Linked DNA regions of Homo sapiens. The protein of the gene in region 4 purifies or fractionates together with the protein of the main gene of each other region. This does not show direct contact. Each region holds a gene or a part of one and is shown on either strand. Other genes may lie near its edges.

Region 1 (6,592 bases), about 63 Mb from region 4:
ATCAGGTAGTGGCTGTGTATAATGCCTAGGACAGTAGGTATTCGATAAACTTGTGTCTTTTTATTTTTTTTTTTATTTTGGAGATAGGGTCTTGCTCTGTCACCCAAGCTGGAGTGCAGTGGTGTGATCATGGCTCACTGTAGCCTTGACCTCCTCGGCTCAAGCAGTCCTCCCACCTCAGCCTCCCAAGTAGCTCAGACTACAGACATGCACCATCCCACCCGGCTAATTTTTTTTTCTTTTTTGTAGAGGGGGTTCTCACTATGTTGCCCAGGCTGGTCTTGAATTCTTGGCCTCAAGCAGTCCTCCTGCTTCAGCCTCCCAAAGTGCTGGGATTACAGGCATGAGCCACTGTGCTTGGCCTCAATAAATAATTGAATCAAAGAAAAAATATTCTTGGTATTATTACATGATTTAAAAAACAATTCAGATTGGTCTTTCCACATGAATTTTTACCATATCCTCAGGGGAGACACTAGCAGTAATAAAAGTAAGCCAGCTTACAATAACTCACTAGCAGTTTTATTGCTTAAATATTCAAACTACAATATTTTTTCTGCAGTTATTTGAAATGTCTTTGTCTTTAAATGTTTATAAGCAGTCAGTAAATACTTTACCAACTTAACTTTTAAGTACTTAGGTGACTTAGAATATAAGCCAAATATATCTATATACATATAAAATTAAGGAGAGAAATAGAAAAATACCTGGCAATCCTGCTCTCTTATTCAGTGTGATATTTTTAGTCATAAGTTGTTATGAAAACACACTACAAAAGCAGTTTGATACAGGTCTCCTTTCTATATCCAGATTTTATAGTCTGCAGTAATAGCTAGCTATTATTGATTGGTTTTAAGAAAATATCCACTTGGGTCAAAATATGTGTACCTGAACCATGTTAAAGAGCTGTGTTCATTTAAGTTTCTCTTTTCATTTTGCTTATATAATCAATACAGAATGGTTAGAGAACGAATGTTGCTTTTGGTCTAAGTATCAGATTCTTTTATTGAGCTATGGAATTTGCATATCTGTACATTTAGTAGGCATGGTTAGAACTCTTAAGGTTTTAATCCACATTATCTCCTCTTTCCTGAGTTTCTAAGAGCCATGATTATGAAGCCTCAGCAGTGTTTTTAACAAAGTACACTGTAAATTGTAACCAGAAGGCAGCGGCTTTAAAGGAGTGCTTATTTGCCTAAATGGCTGTTGACATACTTAATAGTTTTGTATCTGATTCTAGTATGCTAAAGCATTTCAGTATTATGAGAATACAATTTACACACTGGATCCCCTTGTACTTTTTCTTTCAGTTGTCAAAATGTTACCATTATTGCTGGGATTCTAAGAAATCTCTACAAATGCCTCTGATGACATCAGAAACAATTGGTTCTAATCCTGTGAACTCTCTTGTGAAGAAAGCATGAGACTCCTTCGGTTTAGAAGCCATATCTTTCAGGTCATCCAGAGGTGCCCAAGCCACACCAACAGAGAAGATAGTGATTCCTACAATGAAAACATTTTAAAGTGAATTGAAAATCAGGTCTAGCTAATATATGGAATTATGTCTATATGTTTTCCATACACTGTTACATAGTTGCAGCGAAAACTGCTTACTAATTTCTGGACAATTAAATCCCCTGAACAAATTAAGTTTTCACAGTCATTGTGACGAGAGTGGCAAAAGAGTGGTCCAAACCAGAAACTCTGCTATATCTGTAATTCGCCACATTAACAGGTAAGTCATCACTGATAAGAAATAATTTGATAAAGTTCAATATCCATTAATGACAGAACACACCTATAAACTAGGAATAGAAGAAGACTTTTAACCTGATCCACAGTATCTTTTTTAAAATCCTACAGTAAATGCGGATGGTGAAAATTTTCCGTATGAGGTTGGCCTGCATCAAACAGTATACTGGAGTCAGAGTCACAATCCATTAAAGCAAGGAAGAATGGCACAAGAGATGGGATAAGTAAATAGCAAAAGTGTTCAAAGGTTGCATTGTTTGAGGAATGGTGACTAGTCCTCTGATAATGAAAAATCCTCTTCCATTTCAATCTTTATATTGGCAAACTGTCTAATAATCAGAAAATGTCAGCCTATAATCCCAAAGCAAAACTAGTGACTAAAAAGTACTGCCCAAGAGGGATCTTATGAAACTGGAGTAATTTCTTCCAGTTTCATTGAGGTATTCTATTTCCATTCACTTTAGTTACTAGAAGGCTTTTAGTACAACTGTACATTTAGGGTAATAATACATTAGTTGGATTCACCCCAATCCCAATTGTAGAAGTTTTCATTTAATCTTTTTTTTTTTTTTTTCTCAGACAGGGTCTGGCTCTTTTGCCCATGCTGGAGTGCAGTGGTACAATCAAGGCTCACTGCAGCCTCAACTTCCTGGGCTCAAACTATCCTCCTCAGCACCCCCATCCTCAAATAGCTGGGACTACAAGCGCATGCCACTAAGCCCAGCTAATTTTTAAATTTCTTTGTAGAGATGGGGTTTCACCATGTTGTTCAGGCTGGTCTCATCTCGAACTCCAGGGCTCAAGCGATCCATCTGCCTCGGCCTCCCAAAGTGCTGGGATTACAGGCATAAGCCACCACACCTGGCCTCATTTAGCAGATTCTTAGTGTAGAGTACCATCTATCTAATGCTGGGTGCAATTTTCTATAACTTTTGGAGTTTCTGTAATAGTTTTCCTCTACAGATCTAAGGTTTCATTCCCCTTCTAGTGGTATACAGTGCTCAGAGTGGTAAATACCTAAGATATGCAGCAGGTTTAGATGATGTAAAAGCTACTTGGAACAATGTCCAATTGTTCCAGTCTCCTTTTCCTGACTCTCACTCCCTGGTTAAAAAAAAAAAAAGTCAAAATATTTTTTTCCTCCCCCTCAGTTTTCCTCACTTCTTTTCAGTTCTACATTCTAGTTCAGATTGTTTAGCTCAAGCCCAGCATATAATTACAGTTAAAAAAAAAAATAATCACACCACTGTACTCCAGCCTGGGTGACAGAGCAAGACCCTGAAAATAAATAAAAACTGTTGTGATCTACCCCTAAAATCCTACCCTATTTTCTGGCTTTTGCAACTTTCAATATCACTAAGGGATAATTTTCACGAATCAATATTGGTGTAGTCCAGCCTCCTGAACTTTAATCAACCTAATCACTTTATAGCCTGAATACAATCCTGTTAACTATAAGTTCAGTAAGCTAAGTATTAAGGAATATGATAGTAAACAGGTCTTTACTTCACAGGCTAGTTGCTGATGTATAAAAAATACTTTTTACAAGCTAGATGTGGAACTTAAATTGCATGTGTTCTCTGTTTTAAGAATAATCTTTCATCAGTATCTGTAAAAATATGTGAGTACATTGGCAGAGGTACTAATGTGTAGAAAGGAAAAAGGTTATGTCATTAGGAATTAAGTAGGGAAAATGAGGTACAGAAGAGTGTTAAAAAAAACAAGTCCATTGATTCTTCCCTCCTGTCACTCAGTTATATCCTCAGAAAGGGAATCTTAGCTTTTTGTTGGCCTATTTGATCTCTAACACATTACGTTAATGTCTTCAGGAACGAGGCCTGTGCCAAAAGTAATATTAAGGCTGGGGTGAGGAAGAAAGAAACCCTTCTTATACCCTTTTATAACACCAGAGTGTGTTTTTATTATCTTAAGCGGGGGGGAAAAAGTTTTTTTTTTTTTTTTTTTTTCTTTTTGAGACAGAGTCTCACTCTGTCGCCCAGGCTGGAGTACAATGGCACGATCTCAGTTCATTGCAACCTCTGCCTCCTGGGTTCAAGTGATTCTCGTGCCTCAGCCTCCTGAGTAGCTGGGATTACAGGTGTATGTTACCACACCCAGCTAATTTTTGTATTTTTAATAGAGACTGGGTTTTACCATGTTGGCCCGGCTGGTCTTGAACTCCTGACCTCAGGTGATCCCGCCCACCTCAGCCTCCCAAAGTGCTGAATTACAGATGTGAGCCACTGCACCTGGCCAAGGAAATTTTGATGGGATAGGTAAAGTCTATGGGAGACCTTATCTTAGGAAACTCATGCCAGACAAAACTTGACTAAAATAAAAGTTAGGGTTGGGTGTGGTGGCTTATGCCTGTAATCCCAGCACTTTGGGAGGCCAAGGTGTGAGGATTGCTTGAGCCCAGGAGTTTGAGATCAGCCTGGGCAACAAAGTGAGACCCCCGTCTCTCCCCAAAAAAATTTAAAAATTAGCCAGGGGCAGTGGCATGTGCCTGTCGTCCTAGCTATTTGGAAGGCTGACACAGGAGGATTGCTTGAGCCCAATAGTTGGAGGTTGTAGCTCACTACATGCCACTGCACTCCAGCCTGGTGACAGAGCAATTACCTGTTTCATACACAAGAAAGTTAGGATAAATTACTGAATGGCAGATTCATGGTAGGTTATAAGCTGGCTATTTGGAGATATAGTCCAAGTTTGAGCTAAATATGAGCACCTTAATTGTATATGTATAAGCATATTTCCTTAATGTGACATGGTTCTCATGGCAATTCTCCCAACAATACAGTGGTTAGGAATGTGCACTCTGGAGCCAGAATGCCTGGGTTTGGATCTTGGCCTTGCCACTTACTAGAAATGTCATTTCCAGGAAGTTTGCTTCCTTATCTGTAGAATGAGATGAGTAGGGCTGCTTTAACAGTTAATATTGGGTAAAGCCACAGGTGTTTGTTTAATGAAATAAATGCTTAAATTTTTATTTACTCCTAAATTCACTGAACCGTTTTTTCTGTTCCCTTCTCCTATAAAGAACAAGGACCTTACCTGCATCATGTGCAGCAGCTGCAGGGCCTTGGACATCATCATAGGACTGCCCATCTGTGACAATTACTAGGAAGTTCTTGTTGGGGCTCTCCCTTATAGGGCCAAACACATTTCTAACAGTGAAGGAAATGGCATCACCAGTAGCTGTTCCACCACTCATATAGCGGATGTTTCTGATGACAGCTAGGACATTCTCTTTGGTGCTATAGTCAGTGAAACTGAACTCCGTGCGCTGATCATAAGTAAACTGTACAGCAGCTATCTTGGCACCAATGTCCGAGATTTCAAAAGTCTTGGCTATGTTGGAAACAAATTCAAGCATGAGGCGGAAATTGCTATCTCCAACACTGCTGGAGCCATCAATTAGAAAGGCAATGTTCACTGAGTTATAACAGGTCTTGCTGCACATCATTTGTTCATGAGTGCACAGCTTCTGTACCAGAGGCTTTACGTATTTTGTGGTGCCAAACCAGTTGGGCATGTGGTAAGAGAAGAAGCCATTATTCCGACAGACAGCCTAATGGGGGAGACACATAAAAGATATCCAAAAGGATCAAAAGTTGTTTCTTCTTAAAAACTGGAAAATCCTGAATGTTTCAAGTTAATCTAGATAAGAGGCAGTCAGCACTGCACTTAGAGGTCCAAAATGGAATACCCATCACTGTAACAGAAGATAACCCTCACCACTTTACCTTGTCAACAAATGTGACATCCTGAACCATCCCCAGTTCTTCAGGGATAGGCTTGGCCACAGAAACTATAAATACATTGACACCAAACTCTCTGGCCACAATGCCTGCTTCCTCGATGTCATCAGAAGGCCAACCATCAATAAATACCACCACCACTTTGGGGATCCCTTTTCTTACTCCAGCATCTACCGTGAAGAATTTCTGAGCAGTATGCTTCAAGGCTTTTCCTAAATTTGAAAAAGAAGCAAACAAATAGCCTTTACCACTGCTCAAACCACATTTCTGTTTCCCTGTAGCATTTGATGCTGCAAAGTTTAAGAATTATATATAGAACTGGCAGTGGGGCGGGGCACACAAAAAAGAATTATATAGAACCCAGTTCTGTAACAGATGCATCAGCTGGGAAAGTTTAATTATCTACCAGGCCTATTTATCTTCACAAGCCATATTAGTTCCCCCTCCACCTCCTAGAAGCCTCACATTTGTTTACCCCACATCAATCGCCAGTTAGAAACACAAAACTGATTCCCACTTCCATGCATGTGCTCTCTATGTAGCCCTTTGGTGACTGATTAGTACCTCTAAGAAGTCTCTCTTCAGAGTCAACGGTAGTGCTACTCATTCTTTCTGCCACATCTGCATTCATTAGATAAGTCTGTTGATTTTCACTTCTTTTTAGCATTACAAAGAGATACTTCTCCAATGTTATATCTAGTCAATCCAATGTATGAGAATTCTAAATCACCATGCTTTATATTTTTTAAAATAAGAAATATCAACACTTTGGTATACTTCCATTATAAATTGAAAATTTATCTCAGATGATCAAATGCAGACCTAGCCAAGATTTCAGTTCCAGGAGGATTTCACATCTGCTCATATAAAATAGCATAATACTGTTTTACATGTCTGATCACTGATAACCCTCTCCTATGTTACATCCCAGGTATCAAAGTCTACTTACCTGTATTGGAATTACCCCCTCTGAAACCTACTTCCTTTATGGCAAACAAAACATCTTTGGCTGATGTAAAGTTTTTCAAGTAAAATTCTATTTTGGGATGTTCACTGAGTGGAAGAAAGAAAATGTTATT
Region 2 (8,025 bases), on a different chromosome or scaffold from region 4:
GCTTTGTTCTTCTGCACACCCCTGGAGCTGATCAGAGTGTGTTGATCCCTTTGTTTTCAAAGGAAACTTTATGTTCACACTCTCGCTACAGGGGTTAGCAGAGTAAGACGAGAAAATAGTCCCATAGTGTTTCTGCCAGCTAATGAGGAAAATTTTTCCTCCTATATATATCATGATAGGTAATTGAATTAGTACTCCAGTAGGAAAGGGTTTGCTATTTCATACTTCTATAGTCTTTTCTTAACACCATGAAATTAAAGACATGCCAGCATGGAGCTGCCTATTCCTGATCGATTTCAAATAAGCAATGTAGTATATTATTGCTTTTATGTGCTTTTACAGCACATGCTGTGCAAGATAATTGACTCCATGACAGATGTCTATATTTCAGAGGAAAATTTATTTGTTAAAGAACAAACATGTATTACTTTAACATGGGGCTATTCATTATATTGCCCACAAGGTGCTTTTTGATGACTTCTAAATTGAAATTAATATTTTCTCTTGTCGTTCTGAATATGCATAAGCAAATTTGACTGTTTGATATAACCATTTTGAAGCTTATTCTGCTACTTGAATGTAACCTTCTGTACTCTTAGATCATGTTTGAAGTGCTGGGAAATGAGAAAGTGTGCATTTGTTTTTTTTTTAATTTTCAAAGAAGCCTGTAGGCCTGAACAGTTGCCAAGTTGTTCAGAGTAAGTTCTGTCCATCAGACCCATCTTTACATAAAATGACTATGAGAAAAGTCTTAAAGGGTACAGGAAATATTTTCCATGAATCCTCCTTTACTCTCTCACTTCTGCTTGAAATGTCACTCTTTTTCAAGGCAAACACTAGTAGGAAGTAGCATCTGAAGTCCCTAACACTTTTGTGTGAGGCAAACTGACTTGGAGAACTGGCAGTATTAGTTGGACAAGGCTGCTATGAAATAAAACTGAAAAAAGAGAGACGTTTACAAAGGAATGTCCATCTCCATCTACTTTGCAACACTGACGGAGACCAATTCTCCTGTCTGTAAATAAACCCTCCCATTCTTTTAGCTGTCAGAGTTTCTCCAGGAAGAAACTAGACCCTTTATCCTCATCAGCTGACTGGTCACCTTTTGCAGTAAGATCATACCATTAATATAAAATTAAAATAATCAATACCAAGGGATTACCATATTCAGAAAGGATATAAGTTTAATAAGGTTCTTTCAAGGACTATTTCTCTTTTGATGAGAAGAAAAAGAGAAATTTCTACCCTCTTGAACTTTCAATGGCCTAGCCTTTTGAGCATTAGAGGAAACAAGCGGGGGGCGGAGAAAGAGATTTTTTAAATTAAATTGGATATAGTATTTTTGAAAGTAAAACTGGGACACTAAGGACTAGTTTTGTAATGACAGAGTGCAGAGACAACCTCAGGTGGGGTGGAGCCCTGAGGAGAGTGAAAAGGGAGGCTTCTCCTCACCTAAGTGGAGGTGGTTGGCTCCACTGCCCAAGCTGGCCTGCACACAGAATGGAATGCCTTGAGGCTGTAAGTCTGAGGCTCTGAGGTGAGGTGCACTACTGGGCGTCTGACAGCACAGCTAAAATTGGCTGTGCCAACCAGTGAGAGGTGACAGCATGCCGGCAGCCCTCGCTTGCTCTGGGCACCTCCGTGGCCTTGGCGCCCACTCTGGCCGCGCTTGAGGAGCCCTTCAGCCCGCCGCTGCACTGTGGGAGCCCCTTCCTGCAATGGCGGAGGTCGGAGCCGGCTCCCTCAGCTTGCAGGGAGGTGTGGAGGGAGAGGCGAGGGCGGGAACCAGGGCTGAGCAGGGCGCTTGCAGGCCAGCTAGAGTTCCGGGTGGGCGTGGGCTTGGCGGGCCCACACTCGGAGTGGCCGGCCGGCCTCGCCCGCCAGGGCAGTGAGGGGCTTAGCACCCGGGCCAGCAGCTGCGGAGGGTGCGCCTGGTCCCCCAGCAGTGCTGGCCCACTGGCACTGCACTCGATTTCTCGCTGGGCCTTAGCTACCTCCCTGCGGGGCAGGGCTCGGGACCTGCAGCCCGCCATGCCTGAGCCTCCCCCAAGGCTGTGGGCTCCTGCGCTACCGAACCTCCCCAAGCCTCCTAGACTAGCGCTGCCCCCTGCTCCATCAGCACTCTGTGTCTAGCTCAGGGTTTGTGGATGCACCAATCAGCACTCTGTATCTAGCTAATCTGGTGGGGACCTGGAGAATCTTTATGTCTAGCTAAGGGATTGTGAATACACCAATCAGCACTCTGTGTCTAGCTCAAGGTTTGTAAATGCATCAATCAGCACCCTGTGTCTAGCTCAAGGTTTGTAAATCCACCAATCAGTACTCTGTATCTAGCTGATCTGGTGGGGACTTGGAGAACCTTTATGTCTAGCTAAGAGATTGTGAATACACTAATCAGCACTCTGTATCTAGCTAATCTAGTGGGACTTGGAGAACTTTTGTGTCTAACTCAGGGATTGTAAACGCACCAATCAGCACCCTGTCAAAACGGACCAATCAGCTCTCTGTAAAACAGACCAATCAGCTCTCTGTAAAATGGACCAATCAGCAGGATGTGCGTGGGGCCAGATAAGGGACTAAAAGCAGGCTGCCCCAGTAGCAACTCGCTGGGGTCCCTTTCTACACTGGAGAAGCTTTGCTCTTTTGCTCTTTGCAATAAATCTTGCTGCTGCTCACTTTTTGGGTCCACACTGCCTTTATGAGCTGTAACACTCACCACGAAGGTCTGCAGCTTCACTCCTGAGCCAGTGAGACCACGAACCCACCAGAAGGAAGAAACTCCAAACACATCCAAACATCAGAAGGAACAAACTCCAGACATGCTGCCTTTAAGAACTGTAACACTCACAGAGAGGGTCCGCGGCTTCATTCTTGAAGTCAGTGAGACCAAGAACTCACCAATTCCAGACACACCAGGACCTTGAGGGTGTGAGAGGTTACCGTCAGGTTACATTTAGAAGTGTTGTCCCAACTACTCTCCCACATTTAAGGCAAAAATATAGTCACCACTGAACAAGAAAATCATCTTGGCACAAAAATGTACTGAATTGAAGAAAGAAAACAAAGAGAAACAAAACACCATAGCCTAGAACTCCTGCCCCTCCACATTTTCTTCTCTCTCTCACACCACAAACTTTCTCTCTGTGACACACACACACACACACACACAGAGGAGAGACGTATTTGAGGGAGGGTCTCAAGTGCTTGCTTTCCTTAACAACCCAGACCAGGAGGAAGAGATAAAGTGACTTAGGAGATGCCTAAAGATGAAGAACAGCCCGGGATCCGTAAACAGACTCAGCTCGGTGTCTTCTCGCACCTTCTCAGAATCAAGTTTCCAAAATGAGGGTCATCCGCCTGCCTTGGAATTTGGGTTGGGAAGTGGATGGAGTTCCTGGACACATGCTCTAGGCCCTGACCAGTCTGGCCACTGCTCACTAGGAATTCTGTTGGGAGGGTGTACAACAGATTTTCCAACTGGTCTACAGCGAGCATCGGTAGTTTCCCTATGGAGAAAATGATTTTCTTTCTGGGAATCCCCCTATAGCCTGAAGGCTTTGCCTCATTTCCCATAGCTCCTCTCCGGTGTACCCCTTCGGTTCGCACTTTCCTACCTTCTTCCCAGTCCACTGGCTTCTCCTTCTTTATCTTCCTCAGTGTCCCTTCTCACAACCTCCCTGCTACCACACCAGATTCTGAAGGGGAGGAGTTGTCTGGAAAGACCAGAGCTGGGTGCTGGGGATCTGGAGCAGCTCGGGACCCGCGCTGCAGGGAGCTGGGATGGGAGAGGTGAGGGAGAGGAGGATGGGACTCTGGGAGAAAGAGAGGGGGCTGGGCTGGCGCTGGGGATGGAAGAGGCGAGGTGAACGCACTCAAGCGGTTACCTGCAGACAGGGAGAGACAGTGGCAAATACCTGCCTTCAATTAAACGCATATCAATTTGTGTGTGGGGTCAGTACTGCACATCATCAAGCCTCTTGGGTATAAAACCTTCCTACTGGAACTCTCCAGCCCCGCCCCCACCACCCCACGCGCGGCTCCCTGCTTTCTCTTGCTTTGGGGTGAGGCTGGGGATGTGGGTGGCTCCAGAGTTCCCTGCCCGCAGTTTAGGGGCGAAGTGATCGGTGTGTGCGCGCTGGGCACTCTGCGGGTTAAAAAGGTTTAGCAGAAAGGGATGCAGATGGAGGCGGGAAGCCAGGCTAAGAAAGGGATACCGACCTCCCTCCTCGGGTCGGAGGTGTGAACTGGGAAGCACTGCGCAGACCTGAGCGAGGTGGCCTGAATCCAGGGGCCGGGCAAGGGGGTGGTGTGAATAGAAATAGCACATTTCCCAGGCTTTCAGCCCCGGTACTCTGCCATCCTTCCAGTTCCATGCACTCAGCCAGGTCTCCAGGCTGGAGCAAGGGCTGGGGGTCAATGGGTCCTTCCTTCTCTCGGGAAACGTTCTTCTGGCGCGAAGCTGGGCGGAGGGAGAGTCGGACATTTTCCTCTGCTTCTCTCAGGGCAGCTGGCGTGGCCACCTCGCAAGGCTGCTTCTAGGGACACGAGACTCGGGAGGGTCAGAGACTTTCAGGCCGGGCCTTCACTCCCTTCCCCGGGGCACTTGGGCAAGAGTTCCAGCTCTTGGCTACCTCTGGCCCGCGCGTGAGTTCAGACACCCAGCACACGCGACCCCCGCAGGGAAACCCCGGGAAGCTGCGCGCAATCGCTGGGGACTCGCCAGGGCTCCACTTCCCAAGCTCCGCGCCCCCTGCGCCCAAAGAGGCAGGGCGGAGCAGAGGCCGCCGGCGTGGAGGAGGCGAGCGCGGGGCTGGCCCGGGAGCCGCCCCCGGGGAGGGACTGAGACCTGCCCCAGGAGTCGAGGGCGAGCGGCGGACCCGGCTGGGCCCGGCGCACGCCGAGGAGAGGGAGCCCCCGCCACCGCCGCTGCCTCCGCGTGCTCAGCCTGTCCCCGCCCAGGGAGCCGGAGCCTCCAACTAACTCCGCCCGCCGCTCCGCCGCCCGCAGGCTCCGGCTTCCGTCCCGGACAGAGCCCGTGGTCGCGCAGGTTGGTGTTGTTGCCGCTGCTGCCGCCACTGCGAGGCGGTCAGGGCAAGGGTGAGGGTGGGGGCGCGGAAGGGGGCCTGGGCTCGGGATCCTGCTGCCACCAATTCCTGGTGCCCCAGGAGGTTGTTGCTTTTTCTCCCGGGCTGCCCGGGTCGGGGGTGGGGGGATGGGGCGGGGATCCAGCGATGCGGCCAGGGAGGATTTTGGGGACTGAGCTATTCTCGCATTTCCCAAACCTCTCTCACGACCCTTCATCACCATTATTAAGTCCCTGGCCAGTTTGTGAGGGGTCGTCCTCCCCTCCGGTCCTTCTCACCTCCGCACTTCTCCTTGTGCCCTCTCCCTAGGGGGTACAATTTGTTCATTCGCCTTTTCTGCCCCCAACTTGGAGAACTCTCCGTGACGCCTAGAAAGCCTCCTCGGTTCTCCGCCCGCCCTTCAGTCTAGTTTGGGGAAGTAGAGGCCGCCGCGGAGTAGCAACCTGGGGTGTGGAGTGGGGGCGAGTGCCGGGAAGCAGTGGAAATTCCTTCCCCTCTTTCTTTCCCGTCCTTGCCCAGCTTTGCTCTCTTCCTGCCGTTTTGCCAGCCTCCGAATGTAATACGCGGGCGAAGGGCGATCTCCAAGGCAGAATGGGAAGTATCCACCACTTGGGATACTAGTTAAGTCTAGGTTCAGTCACCTTCCCAGCTCTGTGGCCTTGGGACCCGCCCCATCGGAACCTGTATGTTGTCATCTGCAAAATATGCGTCAGCTCTGCCTGCCGCTGAGGGTAGTTGTGGGGCTCCCTTGGGATGACTTAGGGTATTACGTGATTTTGAGCACGGTCTCTTGTCTCGTGCAGCTGCCTGATGGCAGGTCCTGTGTTCTGATCGTCTGAGTTCAGGTCCTTTGGCTGAGATGTGATTATCTCTCTGGGTGATTTGGTCAGTAGCTTTGCGGGGCTAAAAGGCATGTGTTCCTGGAGCTGGTCATTGGGGTTCAGAGTTGAAATCGTGTCGTCCCCACCAATCCCTGTGTACAAAGCTATGGACCTTACATCCTGTGCCTTTGTGGTCATAGAAATTCAAGTAGAAGGAAGATCTTATTGGACTTTGTTTGCTTCAGATGTTTTACATTCTTTACAATCGCTTTTCTCTTCTAGGTGCAAACTTAAATTTACTGCTAATTCTAATAATCCAGGAAGGATACTTTCATTTTAGTAAAATCAGACATTTAGCTCAAATAACATGTGACATATTGTTTGTAAATTTTCAGTTTATAATCACAGGCACAAAAAAGCATAGTTCATGCCATTCTAGTTACTTTATAAAGCAAGTAAATGGCCTAAAAAATCAGCTTTACAGGAAGTCAGGGCTGCAGTGAACTGTGTTTATACCACTGCACTCCAGCCTCGGTGACAGAGCAAGACCCTGTCTCAAAAATAAATAATCAGCTTTAGAATTGATATTAAATGGTAAGCCCTGTCGTTCCTGCATTCCTGACTTAATAGGCATTTTCATTCCGCGATGCACTCTGCTATATGCTTTAAAGATATAAAGATATAGAGTATGTTCCTTGTCCTGAAGGGCCTTCCAAGGTAACTTAAAGACTATGTAGTTTTATTTCATATTTTTATATGAACAGTCTTCTAATGACTATACATGGCAAGTAGAATGAGGTCAAGAATGCATTATCAAAGGCCCTTTAAGATCATCATTTGGCCGGCTGCGGTGGCTCACGCCTGTAATCCCAGCACTTTGGGAGGCCGAGGCGGGCAAATCACAAGGTCAGAAGTTCCGTACCAGCCTGGCCGACATGGTGAAATCCCATCTCTACTAAAAATACAAAAAATTACTTGGGCATAGTGGCAGGCACCTGTAATCCCAGCTACTTGGGAGACTGAGGCAGGAGAATCGCTTGAACCTGGGAGGTGGAGGTTTCAGTGAGCTGAGATCACTCCACACACTCCAGCCCTGGTGACAGAGTGAGACTCTCTCAAAAAAAGATAAAACTAAATAAATAAATAGATAAAAAATCATTTGGTGAGTTTGCATAATTGGAAGAAATAACAAGTTTGTTAAGACATTGCTTTCTAAAATAAAATGCCATGTGCTCCTACTTCATCAAGGTGCACTTGGAAATAAAATGAATTCTGTGTTTTTAGAATGAAAGCTTAGGAAAACATTCTACACATGTATGATGTGCTAATCAAATGTTAAAAGCTATAGAAATTTTAATTCTAACTTCCTTCAACTGTATGTTGTGGTTCCCACATACAGTTTTTTTCTCAACTCCTTGAGGAAGGAAATTATAATGCCTAGAAAAAATATACAGAGATTTAATGTAAGATTTTTAATAAGCTGGACCTTAAGGCCTGGTGGGTCCTGAAGTGACTCTGGAAATTTGACTTTAAAAGTTACGAGACTTGGTGAGACTGAGTGTGGTGGCTCATGCCTGTAATCCCAACACTTTGAGAGGCTGAGGCGGGAGTATTGCTTGAGTTCAGGAGTTTGAAACCAGCAACATAGTGAGACCTTCTCTCTACAAAAAATATTAAAAGAAAAAAAAAGCCAGGTGTGGTGGTGCACGCCGGTAGTCCCAGCTACTCAAGAGGCTGAGGAGGGAGGATCTCTTGAAACTGGGAGGTTGAGGCTATAGTGAGCTGTGATCATGCCACCACACTCCAACTTGGGCCACAGAGAGAGGCCCTGTCTCAAAAAAAAAAAAAAAAAAGACTTAGAATTTTGTTTTTTTTTTTTTTTTTTTTTTTTTTTTTTTTTTTCTTGGGGCAAAGAATGAGCAAGAATTCCACCTGGAAAAGATTGACCAGGGATCTTGACTTTCTGTCTAGGTTGTATTTTGTGTGACTCAGTGACATCTCTGATTCTTTTCCTCCTCCTAGGAAGAATTTATCTATCTGCTATGTGCAGAATTTATTAGGCTTTACATACTGGGCTTTGAGGCTTTGATTGGACTCTCACATTAAGGCATGGCAGGCTG
Region 3 (7,704 bases), on a different chromosome or scaffold from region 4:
CGTGGTGGCACGCGCCTGTAGTCCCAGCCACCCAGGAGCCTGAGGCAGGAGAATTGCTTGAACCTGGGAAGGCTGAAGTTGCCGTGAGCCAAGGTTGTTCCATTGCACTCCGCCTGGGCAACAAGAGTGAAATTCTGTCTTAAAAAGAAAAAAAAAAAAAAGTATGAAGAGTTTACATACTTAAACATGGAATTGCTTTAAGTGTTTGGCATTCACCGTTCCCGTACATTACAGCAGCTTCTTTCAGCAAACACCTGGAACTTGCTATTGAGTAGGTGGAGTACGTTCTGCCCACACACAGGACAGGGAGCTGACAACCAAGGAGTGGGGGTTAAATACTCTAGCTTTCTCCCCTCCGTTTCCCTGTATCTCAGCAGTATGGAGCTCGTTACCATTGAGAACCTCCTCACTGATTTTGAACTGGTTTTTACCTTCTCAGTTCCATTTCTCCATACTTCGATTGATGACTTCTGGTATGACCTAGCAAATAAACTGCTTTCACTTAAATTTCAGTCTTGGAATCTGCTTTGGGTTCCCCAATCTAAGACAGAAATATATTCATTTTCCCATCACTGGACTTCCAGGTTGTTTTCAGTTTTTCACTGTTACAAAAAAGGCTGCAACATTTGTCTACAAACCTCTGGATATACATGTACGAAGCTTTTGGTATTTCCTACTAGTGAAACTGCTCAGCTGAAGGGTATGTGCATCTTCATCTTTAATAAATACTACCAACATTAGAAAAGCCTGACAATGTCAAGGAGTGGCAAGAGTGCCACATGTGATGGGTGTGGAATGGCAGCTCACTGTAGCAGGTGCTGGGGACTCAGTCGGGGTCTTGGAGAGACAGTTATAGCAAGAATGTTTCATAAATGGTATCTGATATAGCCAAGATTAGTGAGGAATAAAAACACGTTGCTTAGAAATAATTATCCATAGATCTGAAGTCAACAAAAGTCCCTTTTCTAATGTAAAAATGCATACTTTTCTCAGAGGGAGGGGGAACAACTTAAACCAGAAAACACCTTCATATTAATCATCCTTCTCACATACTTCAAATTTGTACTTGATGTGTTTCCCCTCCTGGACATCAGAGAGAACACCTGGGTATTCAGGCAGAAGTTTATATTTCTCCAAGTCAATTTCTGAAAAAAACGTGTCACTTTCAAAGTCCTGCATGATCCTTGTCACAAATAGTTTAAGATGGCCTAGGTGATTCATGGCTTCCTTATAAACAGAACTGCCACCAACTATCCAAATCATGTCTACTTTATTTGCTAATTCTGGTCGTTCAGTAAGTTTTAAGGCATCATCCAAACTTCTGGCAAGAAAATGAGCTCCTTGTGGAGGTTCCTTGAGTTCTCTGCTGAGAACTAAATTAATTCTATCCTTTAAAGGTCGATTCTTCTCAGGAATGGAGAACCAGGTCTTCCTACCCATAATCACCAGATTCTGTTTACCCTCTACTGAAGAAGTTGTGGTCATTCTCTGGAAATACCTGAATTCATTCCTGAGCGGCGGCCTGGGCAGGTCCCCGTTCTTGCCGATGCCCATGTTTTGGGACACAGCGACGATGCAGTTTAGCAAAAGAAACATGACAGCAGCGGTTAACACCTCCGAACTTGCTGGCTACGCCAGGAAGCCAGGCCAAGAATGCCGCGAAATTCCCTTCTTCAAATTTTTTTACGTGCCTACATTGCAAATACAATACCACTGTATTAATTAATTGCAACATTCTGGAATGAACATAGAAAAATAAATTATATAAAATATATTTATAAAGTATAAATTTATAAAATATTTATAAAATATAAATTTATAAAATTATAAAAAATACAGAGGCTGAAAGGTTAGACCGACTTTTCCACAAACATTAAACAGACGGCATCCAAGAGATGGCATCATTTCATTCCTGATTATCATAGTCTTTTGTACCAAATCTAAATTCTAATAAGATGCATTTTTTAGGTGACTTGGAAACTTGTTTAAATAAATAAATATATTAAGCTTCAAATCAGATTAGAAGGAAAGACATGTTTTTACATGAATATAAGACTTGTACCTATAGCATGTACGTATATTGATATGAGCATCAAGGAACAACTCAAAATGATGATTATTAACTATCAGGGACCATATCAAACCGGTTTTTTCTAATTGCTGATTGCTGCTACAAATGATAGTTACTGAAGCATGACACCAAAAGAGCAAATAAACTTCTATTCGTGTCAAAATAGGTGTAATAAACATCTTCCTTGGAGAACCATTAAACATTGCTCCCTTGTAAAGGTGAATTGGGGAGGCTAGAGTGGAGGGTCCTTTTGGTCTTCACGCATTTGGTATCAACGCGACAAAAATCACAATGATCACAATAGTGAAAATAATAGCAGCTAACATTTGGGCATTTACTGTTTCCTAATCACTGTTGTAACCGCTTTACATGCCTACTTCAGTTTAACACTCTCCATTAAAAGGAGAGATTATCCCCATGGGCCAGGTCTGGGGAAAAGCATGACTTAATTTCTTTTTCATTATATTCCACCCTTTTATCCTTGGGTACTGAATGTCTAGGTTAACAGGGGTCACTAGATTTGGTAGATTAAGTCAGTAACTAGCTTCGCTTTGAGAATATTTTAAATCAGTCATCATACAACATAACCCCAAAACTCATTCCTTTATTGAGCCCCATGCATATACACACTGTTCAGCACAATATGCGACTTTTTATTTATTTTTGAGACAAAGCCTCGCTCTGTCGCCCACGCTGCAGTGCAGTGGCGCGATCACGGGTCACTGCAACCTCAAACTTCTGCCCAAGCGATCCTCCCACCTCAGCATCCGCAGAAGCAGGGGCCGCACAGGCGCGCAGATGTGTGACTTTCTAAGGTCCGGCCGCCCAAAGCTACGCCGACCAATCCAAGTAGCGAAAGTCGCTTTGGCCCTGGCCCGTTACCTCCGCGTCCTGGGAAGTATCAGCCTTTACCAGCTACCGGAAGTAACTGCGCACGAAATCTCCCGCGGGAGCTAAGCCTCTTCGACAAGAATTCTATAGCGCGAGCAAATCAGTATCTCGCGAGAAATTGAAGAGGAAACGTGAGAATGAAAGTGGATGCCCGCGAATCCCGGAAGTCAGACTGTTTTTTTCAGTTCCCTGGAGGCTTTTTGATACTGATTCGCGTACACCTGTTGTTTGAAAGCTCTCAGCGGGACAATGCTGACCCAGGTGAGACCTGGGGCCCGGCTGGGTACCTCTATCTGAATGAGACGCTTCTGGACGCGGCCGAGGTGGCGAGGGAGGGTGCTGGGATGGGGGAACATCACCTTTGTTCGTCCCCTCGCGAGATCAGCGTTTCTTTGGCTTTACTGTCAAGCCCTGAAATAATGCTGAGTGCTGTAATGCTGAGTCCCTTCCGTCCAGCTCGCAGACTTCTAGTACCCACTCCCTCCAGCTCTTGGAGGGCTGAGATTTGTTTTCTGTGTCACAGCGGTATCCCGGGAGCTTAGAACAGTGTCTGTTACATAGTAGGCATTGAATACACGTTTCTTGGATGAATAAATGAAACAATTGCAAGGAAGTTCACGATGAAATTGGAGTGACTTTTCTCCCTAAATTAACTTTTCACTTTAAAATAACGTTGCAAAGATAGTACAGAGTTCTCAAATACCTTTCACCAATTTTTCTTGATGTCAGCATCCCCGGTGACTTTTTAGTTTTGTTTAGATACAAGTTCTTGCTCTGTCACCCAATCTGGAATGCAGCTGCTCCATCATAGCTCACTGTAACCTTGAACTCCTGGGTTCAAGCGATCCTCCAGCCTCAGCCTCCCTAGTAGCTAGGACTACAGGAGCAGGCCACTACGCCTGGCTAATTTTTTTTTTTTTTTTACTTTTTGTAGAGACACGTCCTTGATATGTTTTCCAGTCTGGTCTTGAACTGGGAAATGATCCTCTCGCCTCGTCCCTGCAAAGCATGAGCCAGCTGGAGTACAGTGGCGCGATCTCGGCTCACTGCAACCTCCACCTCCTGAGTTCAAGCGATTCTCCCACCTCAGCCCCCTGAGTAGGTGGGGTTACAGGCGCCCACCACTACTCTCGGCTAATTTTTGTATTTTTAGTAGAGACGGGTTTCCCGTGTTGGCCAACCTGGTCTTGAACTCCAGACCTCATGTGATCCTCCCGCCTCTGCCTCCCACAGTGCTGGGATTACAGGTGTGAGCCACCTGCCTAGCCCCTACAGTGACTTTTTAAAATTAATTTTGTTCCTTTTGACAGTTTCTTCAGCCCCAGTAGATTCTGTTTTAACCTTTGCTTCACATTTGGAAAATAATTATTTGGAAAAACCTTGCTTTTTCATAATTAGATAATGTACAGTTTTGGTACATGTAAGGTATTGCTTCCATTTCAAGAACTAGTAATTATCCAAAAAAAGTGTTCTTGTCTTAAAAAAAGACCTTGCTAATGTTGACGTTCAGTAAATTTGTAATATCACTGTGTGTCAGCAACTTTTTCTTATCGTCATAGCTGAAAGCAAAATCAGAGGGGAAGCTTGCAAAACAGATTTGCAAAGTTGTGTTGGATCATTTTGAAAAACAGTATTCCAAAGAACTCGGAGATGCCTGGAATACAGTAAGGTTAGTATAATTCATCTCGATGCTTTATGATGGAACAAAGTACAATATGTAGTCCTCCTTTTTGTGGGAGGGATGCTGTGAGGTTAAAAGGCAAAGGAATCTAAATCTGGTTGCCTTTTCCTACTGAAGCTATAGAAAGGAACAACTAAGAAGAAATAGAATGAATCATAGCATGTTGGAAAGGGGAAATAAAACTTTGTCGGGATGGTAAGCACAAATTGTTACGCCTTTGCTTTGAGCAATTACTTTGATCCTTGAAATAGGAATGCCCACTAGTTTGACAAAATTAATTATACTGTAAAAGAAAAAAACATAAAATTTGGAATATTTGACTGATTTCTGAAATTTAGAAGATAATACAACAAATCTTTAAAGCCAGCACTGCTTTATCTCAGCCAAAGGTACACTTTATTTGGTAATCATATTTCTTTCCTATGTCGATGGCTGGGTATATTTTGAACACGTGCATATACACACAAAATTATTTAAATATAAAAATAAGGAATGTTTAATGCATGGAAGTGGGAGAAATGTGATTTGTCTGTTTGGTAAGATGATGTTAATGTATGGATTACTGTATGGGTTCTTGACATTGAGTGCCTGATACACTATATAACCCTCTCTGGAATACAGAGCAAGACAGTCTGCATGTCCAGTTTACATGCCGTCTAGTTAGTGTTAATGGGAGAAGTGAGGAGATGGGTGTGGTTACAACTATATAAACTAATTTGTAAATACTGTGATCCAAGTATCTAACAAAGCCTGAGGGTGCCAGCAAAGGCCTGAAGGGAAGCTGGGTCTTGGTGACTTAGAGGAGTTACTTTGACAAAAAGAACTAGGCCTCCTAGGTTGAGGGAAGAAGGTGCACTGTTCATGAAGTTAGGGCAAAAGCCCACTACATGTTGCATGAGGAAAAAAAGTTGCATGGCTACAGATATTATCTGGAACTTGGTCCAGACTAATTTTTCAGATGGTTGGCTTGTCCATTTTTTTCTTGGATCAACTCTTAAGCATTTCTCCTTTACAAAGGGCAGTTCTGAGCATTTTCTAAAACAAATTAAGTTTTGGCTAATAAAGATCACAAAGTCTGAGGTGATTCTGAGATAATTTTAGGACAATTAAGCTGTTATAGAAATTGGTAAATGCTGTAATATGCAAACCGTTTATACTCGTGGGTTTTATTTCAAAAGTAGATTTTCAAATGGGTATTTTCTGTCACAGAGATGAAGAACTGAATAATAAAGTATGTAATAAATTTATGAGGTTTTCAGTATACAAAGGTACTCAAATAGAGTATCCAAATAACCAAACACTTATTGCATGTTTACTATATGCCAGACAATACTGACTTACATGATCCTCAGAACAAACCCGTTAAGAGTTTAAGTAATTTGCCCAAGTTCACTCAGCTAATAAGTGGCAGAGCTGAGGCTTGTGCCTGGGTTGTCTGACTCAATAACTCCCACAGCTCATCCTTGTTCTGTACTGTCTCATATCTGGGATGTGATTTAAAAAAAAAAAAGATTTCAAGAGGCTTTTTTTTTTTCTGTAGACTTTGTAGCAGTCTGGCTACTCATATCCTATAATGACTTATTTTTCTACTTAGTGTACTCAGAAAGTCATATACTATTATTTGACCCTGAGCAAAATGAGCAATGAACCTCAAATCCATTTAATTAGCTGTGCCTTCTGCTTCATTTACCCTATTGTGGGGTTTTTGTGGTAATTTAAGTTTTGCATAAACACACACTAAATTTGCCATAGGCAAAATAAAGGTTTCTCAGCTTAGGAAGTAGTCTGAGCATGGAAGATGGTATGGGGAAATAAGAACAGAATGAAATATTTTGTGTTTTAACTGCTTGTTTGCAAGACATAATGTACTTGTAGAGTCTACTTCCAGGGAAAGTCAAGTGCTCTTTTTTTGGCCTATTTAGAAAGTAATTTATTCAATATTTTTAGTTTCCTGTAGTAGTGAGGAAGATTTAGTATTTAGTTTTGCTCTTTTTTAGTAACCTTTCTTGTCTAGTCATCCTCTGAGCAGCCCTTTAAAATTGGAGTTTACCCTGGTTCAATTCTTGCTCTATTTGTTGCCTCCATGTTCTCCTCAGGTAAGCCCATTCATGGCATGACTTTTATCAGTATGCTGTCATCTCAAGCTGTGAGGTTCTTCCTAAGATTTAGTCCCATACTTCTGTTTTTTAGCAACTTCAGTTACTTGGCAAACTCAAAAGTGTATTATTATTTTTCCCTTTCAAACTTATGTTGCCTTTGCTACCTGCATATTTTATCTCAATTAAGTGTATCACCATCAGTCTGGTTTCCTCCTTTCTTCTCTATACCTTCACTACCTTTGTAGTAAAAAATGAACCTTATATAAAAATAGGTCTGGCAACTGCCCTCAGCTCCTGGGAGGCGATCTCTAAGCCCTTGGAATGTGCTTCCTGATAAGTGTGTCTTTGTTTACCTGGGTGTTGAGGTCACACCTGATAATCTAACGATGTGATTTATGTTGAGGCCTGGGGACCACAGGTGTCAACTCAACATCCAGAAGGGCTTGTGACTAAAAGCTGTATGGACAGTCAATCATATATACGTGACCAAGCCCCAATAAAAAGTGGATACCAAGGCTTTGGTGAGTGTCCCTGGTTGGCAATACTCTTGTGCATACTGTCATACATTACTGCCAGCAAAAGTTGACCTCGTTGATGATTCCGTTGGAGAGGACAGCTGGAAGCTTCATGCTTTGAATTGTTGTGAATTCTGCACTATGAGTCTCTTCCTGTGATTGTTTTTAATCTGTATGCTTTCATTATAATAAACTGTGACTATAACTGTGATTATAACAGCTTTCAGTGAGTTCGGTTGTGTCCCAGTGAATAATCAAACCTGAGAGTCATCCTTGGAATCCCTGAACTTGTAATTGGTGTCAGAAGTGAGAGTTGTCTTTGAGACTCAACTACCCTGCCCCCTTTTAATTTGGATCTTTTTAAAAAAATTCTCTACTGCTGCCATTCACTTAGACCTTCCCAATCTCTTATCTGGCATATTGCAACAGCCATGTTTAGTACTTACC
Region 4 (6,834 bases):
ATATGTTTGTAACAAGTAACCAAGTCTCAGCCAATCATAGCAGCTGAACTTTCAGTCAATCACAGCCTGCCAACTGCTCAGACATGTTCAAACAAGGCAAACACAGAGCTGTAACCTATCAGCCTATGTGTGTATGTCACTTCCTTCTTCTGCCTGTAAATACTGCCTACGTTGCTGGGTGGCACTCTCTGAACCTTTACTGGTTTAGGGTGCTGTGTGATTCATGAATTGTTTCTTTGCTCAAATAAACTCTGCTACGTTTAATTTGTCTAAAGTTTTCTTTTAACAGGTGCGCTCCGAGCGTGGGAACCACTGTTCTGCTCTGGAATTCCCTAGAGGCCCCTTCCCTGGTGTGTTCCAAAAGCAGAATCTCAAGAATGACAGGTGGGAACTCCCCCGCAAAACCCTTAGTTCTCCTGAGTCTCCCAAAACCCTCCTTGCGTGTCTCCCTTATCTCACCAGGGTGGAAAACAACCCCTGTTGGCTGCTCTAGCCCCTAGTTCTCTGCTTTAGATAATAGAGGCAGGTGTGACCTGCTCCCCACTCCCCGCACCCAAATGATGGGCTTTATTGAATTCTCCATCGGGTTTCTGACTTGGATTTCTGGGTCCTCGCGACAATTCTTTTGTCGCGAAACCCAGAAAAGATCCTGGGTTTCGTGGCAGATCAAGCTGGATTGGGGCCCTAGCACTGCCATGTATGAATTAGGTGATGTGGGACAGGCTACTTAAACTCTGCCTCAGTTTCCACAGTATAAAATAGAGCTGATAATAACACCTCTAGCCTTACCCATTTTTCTGGTGTTTGTCTATTCTCCAGTGCCTCTGCACAGCCTCCTCATCTCTCTCAGGACTCAGCAGTAGCCCCTACCTCGTCTCCCTGCCTCCTGTTCAACTCCCTCCAGCCCTTTTACCCATCTGCAGCTGCATCTTTTTAAATTCTCAAAAATTCAAGCTGATCGGTTCTGCTTTGAAGTTTTCAGGGACTCCCCATTGCCCACCACAGGGCTGATTCTCACTAATGTAGCCCAGGGGGTCTTTGTGACCCAGTCCCTGGTGACAGTTCTGCCTCCAGCCTCAAATCTGGCCCTTTGGGGTCTCAGCCACAGCAACACTGGGTGCCAGGGGTTCTTCCAGCACACATCAGCCTTTTCTCCCACTGTGGGGCAGGGCAGGGCATGTCACATCACTATAGGGCAGGTTACAGCAAGACAGGTCACTGCAGTTCCCCAGGGCAGGTCATTTTGATTTTTCCATGTTTGCTGAGCCCAGCTCTGGACTGGGAGCAGGGAACAAAGATGGATCTGCCTCAGTCCTGCCTATGTGGCTCCAGTCTGTAGGTCCCTCATCTCCCTGCCTCATCTGGCTCACTCCATCTTGTCCTTTGAGACTCAGGTCCCAGGTCACCGCCTCCAGGAAGCCTTGTATCTGTGCTTCTCTATGGCCTTGCCCCATGACAGGCAGTGAAATCTTTGCTTAGCTTTGGTCACTGCCATACCTATCTGGGATCTCCTCTCAGGCACAGGCCCTGTGCGGTATGATGCCAATGGTAGGATGGGCTCCCCTGCCAGCTCTGGGGAGATTGCATGTCTCACCTTCTCCTGCGTTAATTCTCTAAGATGAGGGTGAAAACTCCATCCACCCCACAATATTGTTGTGAATACCAGACGTGGCTGTTATCAGTGCTTGGCTTATGTGACCTCACTTAATGGGTCATCCTGGGGCCCATTTTACAGATGAGAAAACTGAGATCCAGGGAGACAGAGTAACTCCCCCTGAGCTGGAATTCTAAGCCTAGATGTCTGACATCGGAGCTTGTGCCATGCCATTCTGCCTATCTCTACAGAGAGCAAAATGATGAGTAAAGCAGCTCTTAAGAGTACCCAGCCATGGTCAGGTGTGGTGGCTCATGCCTGTAATCCCAGCACTTTTGGAAGCTGAGGTGGGCAGATCATCTGAGGTCAGGAGTTCGAGACTAGCCTTGCTAACATGGCGAAACCCATTTCTACTAAAAATACAAAAACATTAGCTGGGTGTGATGGTGTGTGCCTGTAATTCCAGCTACTCGGGAGGCTGAGGCTGGAGAATAGCTTGAACCCAGGAGGCAGAGGTTGCAGTGAGCCGAGATCGCACCATTGCACTCCAGCTTGGGCAACAAGAGTGAAATTCCATCTTAAAAAACAAACAAACAAACAAACAAAAAAGTACCCAGCCATATAAAAATGCAGAGTATCAATATTATTCATGCATTTCATGTCAAGTATGCCCTCTTTGTTCCTCATCTCTGAAGAGACTCACTTAGTAAATATTCACTGTGTTCTCTGTTTTCACAAATGCCCTATGAGCCAGGCACAGTTCTTGACCTTCTGTAGTGAAACCTCATGACATGTGGTACAGTGCAGACAGTTCTGTTCTCTGTGCATTATCTCTGCCCCAGGTCACTGAGTGAGGAGCCATGGTGGAGACAGGTCTGCGTGACTCAGAAGAATACCCCTGCACTGGGCCAGCTGAGCCCTCCCAGGCCCTGACCCGCGGCCAGCATCCTTCATCGGTGGTGCCGACTGGAGCAGATGCATTGTAGCTTGCAGGCTGCGACTCTGTGGCTGTTGTGGCTGTTGTGGCTATCTGGCTGGGCTTAGGAGCATCAATCATGGCAGTGGACGAGAATGGTTCTTAGCTACAGCCCTCTGTGTCAGCCCCCTGCATGGCAGGAACCCAGGGGACATCGGAACCCCTGTGGATGACTCACAGACTCCGGGGTCTGGAAAATCCTAACCAGATTGCCTCATAACACTGCTGGCTGCCCTAATGTTCAATGTGCCCTTTAAAAAAACAAAGCATCTCAACAAACCAAACAAGCGAGCTGCAGCCATGGCTTTGCTCTGGAGGCTGGGCAGGGGGAGGGACAGAGGGTTCTCAGGTGTTACTCACAGTCTGCGGTGGGCTCAGGCTGTTTCTGCTGGCTTGGTCCTGCTGTCCTGGACCCTAGCATGTGTACAGTAAGCCTGCGGTGGATGCTGCCTGTTAAATTTTGTTTGCCAGCTTCCTGGGTGGTTAATGGTTAGAGGGGCCAGTGGCCTTCACCGCTTGGTAGTCCTCTCCCCCGAGTCATTAACCAATGGGAGGCTTTGTCAGGATAGCTGAGTAAACACAGAAATGCTGCAAATTAACTTTGCTCTGCGTTCAATTCTATGAAGTCTTTTTTTAATACCAAAATGTGGCTGGAGTTGCATCAATGTGGTTGCCCTGTGTCAGTTGGCAGAGATGTCTTAGGTGCCCTTAATTAGCACCAAGGTGCAGATACTTGTAAAAAGAAAAATAGGTGTTTAGCTCCAATTGGGGATGACTTGGGCAAGGTCCTGCCTTCCAGTGGTCTTAGTCTGGTGGGAGAGACAGACATGGAATAATATCTGCCAAGCGCTTCCTCTGGATTATCTCACGAAATCTTCACAATGACTCTGTGAAGTGGGTACCATTGTCACTCCTCTTTAGATAGGAAACTGAGCTGCATGGAAGTTAAGTTAAACGCCCTTGAGATTCAAATCCAAGGCCATTCAATTCTAAAGTCTAGCACCTTCCCCTTTCCCCACATTTTATTTTTCATCAGTTTTCTTTGGATTACAGGTGACAGACATCAAATTTGAACTGCTTTAAAGCAAAAAGGAATGAATGAGAGGTCCAAGGGTGGAAAGGACTTCAGGCATGGATCTACGGAGTTCTAAATCAGGCATCAGATCTCTCCTTCTCTCTCTCTCTCTGTCTTTTTTTTTTTTTTATTCCTTCCTAGCTCTGCTTTCTTCTACTTTATTCTGTCTGCATTGGGGACAAATGTGGCCACAGTAGCTCTGGGTTATTTAGTTCTAACTGGTTAGTTGATATCAGAAGGAGAGAAATTCTCATTTTTCTCAATGTTCATAACAGTTCCCCCCAAAAGTCTATGGCGTGGTTGCCCCCCTTAGGACTGATTGATCACAGTGTGGAGAAGGATGAGGCATTGTGAATGCCTCGCTAGGGTTCTTTGCTCTCTGTTGGGTTGACAGCATCATTGCTTCCATCCAGAGATGAGGGAATCTCTTCCCAGGGGAAAAGAGGAGAGTAGAGCCTACAAATGGGTCTGCAGTTTTGGAGACACCTTAGTTTTGTAGATGTTTATTGGTCTTTTCAAGTTTCCTATCCTATAAGGCAAGTTTGAACTTTATATCTAGGAATTTATCTATTTCATCTAGATTTTCAAATTAAATACTACAGTTATTCATTAGGCCTCTCCATTATTATTTTTACATTATTATTTTATATCAGTAATTCTTTTTTCTTTTTTTGTTCTGTATTTTGTTTATGTCTTTTCTCCCTTTGATAAGTCCTGTTACAGAGATCTATATAGCTAATTAATCTTTCCAAAGATCCACCTTTTAGTTTTGTTACTGGTTTTTTAAAAAATTGATATTTCATTGATTTCTGTTTATATCTTTATTTTTTAATCACCCCTTTAAATTCTCTGGGTTTTGGTCTGTTGTGCTTTTTTCTATTTTCTTGAGATAAATGCTTAGCTTTCTTACATTTTAATATTTCCAGTCTCCACATAAATGTATTTAAGGTTACAAGTTTTCATCTAAATACTGAGTGAGCTATGTCCCACGCATTTTTGATAATTACTATTTTCATTGTAATTTTTTTCTAAGTATTTTAAAATTTCTTTTCTGGTTTCCTTTAAAACCAGAGTGTAGTTTAGTAATATGTCACTGAGTTTATTTAGAATTTTAGGCTATTCTCTTGTTATTCACTTCCAATTTTATTTCACTATGGTCAAAGAATATTGTCCATTATGATATTGAACATTTGGAATGTTTTGAGGTTTGTAATAGCCATATATGGTCTTTTTTTTTTTTTTTTTTTCGAGACGGAGTCTTCCTTTGTCATCCAGTCTGGAGTACGGTGGCGTGATCTCGGCTCACTGCAACCTCCGTCTCCTGGGTTCAAGGGATTCTCCTGCCTCAGCCTCCCGAGTAGTTGGGACTGCAGGCGTGAGCCACCATGCCCAGCTAATATTTTTTATTTTTAGTAGAGACAGGGCTTCACCGTGTTAGCCAGGATGGTCTCAATCTCCTGACCTCATGATCCGCCCGCCTCGGCCTCCCAAAGTGCTGGGATTACAGGCGTGAGCCACCGTGCCCAGCTCATATATGGCCTATTTTAATAAACATTTCATGTTTTCTTTAAAAAATAATGGATATCTGTTTGATATGTATATATACACATTCATATATGTATATATGTAATAACTTGAGCTTATTTTATTTAAATCTTCATATTTATGTTGATTATTTATTTAAGCTTTCAGTTTCTCATTGGGGAATGTTAAAATCACCAATAGCAATTGTTCACTTACTTCTCTTGGTCAGTTGTTGCTTGACTTACTTCAAGACTGTATATTAAAGCACATATACTTTCGATAATTATGTCCTCTTGTATTTGTTTTTCTTGTATCTTTTTTTTTGTATAGCATACTTTTGTCCTAAATTTAATTTTATACAGTGTTATGATTGCTTTCCTTTCTTTTGGTTCACTCTTACCTGATATTTTTCATCCTTTTATTTCCAAAGTCTCTGTGCCTTCTTTTTTTTTTTTTTTTTTTTTTGAGATAGAGTCTCATTCTGTCGCCCAGGCTGGAGTGCAGTGGCACGTGCTCAGCTCACTGCAGGCTCCACCTCCTGGGTTCACGCCATTCTCCTGCCTCAGCCCCCCGAGTAGCTGGGACTACAGGTGCCCACCACCATGCCTGGCTAATTTTTTGTATTTTTAGTAGAGATGGGGTTTCACCTTGTCAGCCAGCATGGTCTCAATCTCCTGACCTAATGATCCACCTGCCTCGGCCTCCTGAAGTGCTGGGATTACAGGCGTGAGCTACCGCGCCCGGCCTGTGCCTTCTTTTTTTAAGAGCGTCTCATGTACAAAACATCTTTTTAGATTTAGCTTTTTATCCCCAAAGGAGGGTCTTTGTCTGTTAATTGGCAAAATTAACCTTTTTACATTTATTTTAATTGTCTTAGGATTGACATATTATCTTATTTTATATTTCCCATTTGCTATATCTTATTTTTGTTTTTTTTTTTGTGAATTTTACTGACTTACATTGAAAAGATTGAGTTTTATTCCATTGAGTTAAAATATATTCATTATATTTTTGATCTTATGATGGTTTCTCTTTACTAAAAACACTAAAACCAAGTTTAGTTTAGTTTGATAAACTAATACTTTGCTAAAAACACTAAACCCAAGTTCCTAGCCATCATCAAATAGAGACAAGCCATCCCCACTGTATCTTTTCTGAATTCCTGTCCCAAGAACCCAAAAGCATAAAAAATGATTGTCTCAAGCTGGTAAATTTTTGGATAATTTATGAGGCAGCCATAGTACCTAGAACACATTTTGGCACCTGGAAGTGGAAAGCTGCATATGAAAGCCAAACATGTGGCAATGACTTTGGGATCAAATCAGAGTCGGAAAGTCCTTATAAAGATTGTGAGTGGAAACGTGATGACCCACAAGGAGGCCGTTGATTAGGGCTTAAAGGAAAGTGAGAAACAGGCTATAGCTAGAGGAAAGAGAATCCTTGACATGTAGTGGTAGAAAGTTTAGCAACATTGTCACCTGTGATAACATGAAAATTGAATATATAGCAAATGAAGTGGTGGTATAGCTGGTGATATTTCTCTGAAGCTAAGAAGGTCTCTGAAGTTATTGTCTGACTTCTCGATACTTATAGTAAAATGTGAGAGGATATAGATAAGCTTAACATTTTTGTTAAATATAAAAGAGCCAGCGCTTATTGGGTTAA

What was found.
Region 1: the proteins of SERPINA6 (region 4) and COCH purify together in Homo sapiens (affinity purification with mass spectrometry; 3 studies listed by BioGRID and IntAct, with this or other methods). This does not show direct contact.
Region 2: the proteins of SERPINA6 (region 4) and PAM purify together in Homo sapiens (affinity purification with mass spectrometry; 3 studies listed by BioGRID and IntAct, with this or other methods). This does not show direct contact.
Region 3: the proteins of SERPINA6 (region 4) and DHFR2 purify together in Homo sapiens (affinity purification with mass spectrometry; 3 studies listed by BioGRID and IntAct, with this or other methods). This does not show direct contact.

Annotation. Positions count from the first base shown.
Region 1 is NC_000014.9:30,884,527-30,891,118, reverse strand, and holds the end of COCH (cochlin isoform b precursor), read right to left. Parts: exon of another isoform or gene 6,567-6,592; coding exon 6,463-6,566; exon of another isoform or gene 6,445-6,462; intron 6,135-6,444; coding exon of another isoform or gene 6,078-6,134; intron 5,726-6,077; coding exon 5,499-5,725; exon of another isoform or gene 5,324-5,498; coding exon 4,807-5,323; exon of another isoform or gene 4,793-4,806; intron 1,977-4,792; exon of another isoform or gene 1,864-1,976; intron 1,736-1,863; exon of another isoform or gene 1,504-1,735; coding exon 1,328-1,503; 3' UTR 501-1,327; downstream 1-500. UniProt on the Homo sapiens protein: Plays a role in the control of cell shape and motility in the trabecular meshwork.
Region 2 is NC_000005.10:102,750,302-102,758,326, forward strand, and holds the start of PAM (peptidyl-glycine alpha-amidating monooxygenase isoform e preproprotein), read left to right. Parts: upstream 1-5,003; 5' UTR 5,004-5,047; intron 5,048-8,025. UniProt on the Homo sapiens protein: Bifunctional enzyme that catalyzes amidation of the C-terminus of proteins. Alpha-amidation is present at the C-terminus of many endocrine hormones and neuropeptides and is required for their activity.
Region 3 is NC_000003.12:94,059,916-94,067,619, forward strand, and holds the start of DHFR2 (dihydrofolate reductase 2, mitochondrial), read right to left. Parts: upstream 3,002-7,704; 5' UTR 2,831-3,001; intron 1,692-2,830; 5' UTR 1,597-1,691; coding exon 1,033-1,596; 3' UTR 1-1,032. Other genes in the region: NSUN3 (tRNA (cytosine(34)-C(5))-methyltransferase, mitochondrial), read left to right, coding at 3,212-3,223, 4,522-4,631. UniProt on the Homo sapiens protein: Key enzyme in folate metabolism. Contributes to the de novo mitochondrial thymidylate biosynthesis pathway. Required to prevent uracil accumulation in mtDNA. Binds its own mRNA and that of DHFR.
Region 4 is NC_000014.9:94,320,337-94,327,170, forward strand, and holds the start of SERPINA6 (corticosteroid-binding globulin precursor), read right to left. Parts: upstream 3,001-6,834; 5' UTR 2,931-3,000; intron 1-2,930. UniProt on the Homo sapiens protein: Major transport protein for glucocorticoids and progestins in the blood of almost all vertebrate species.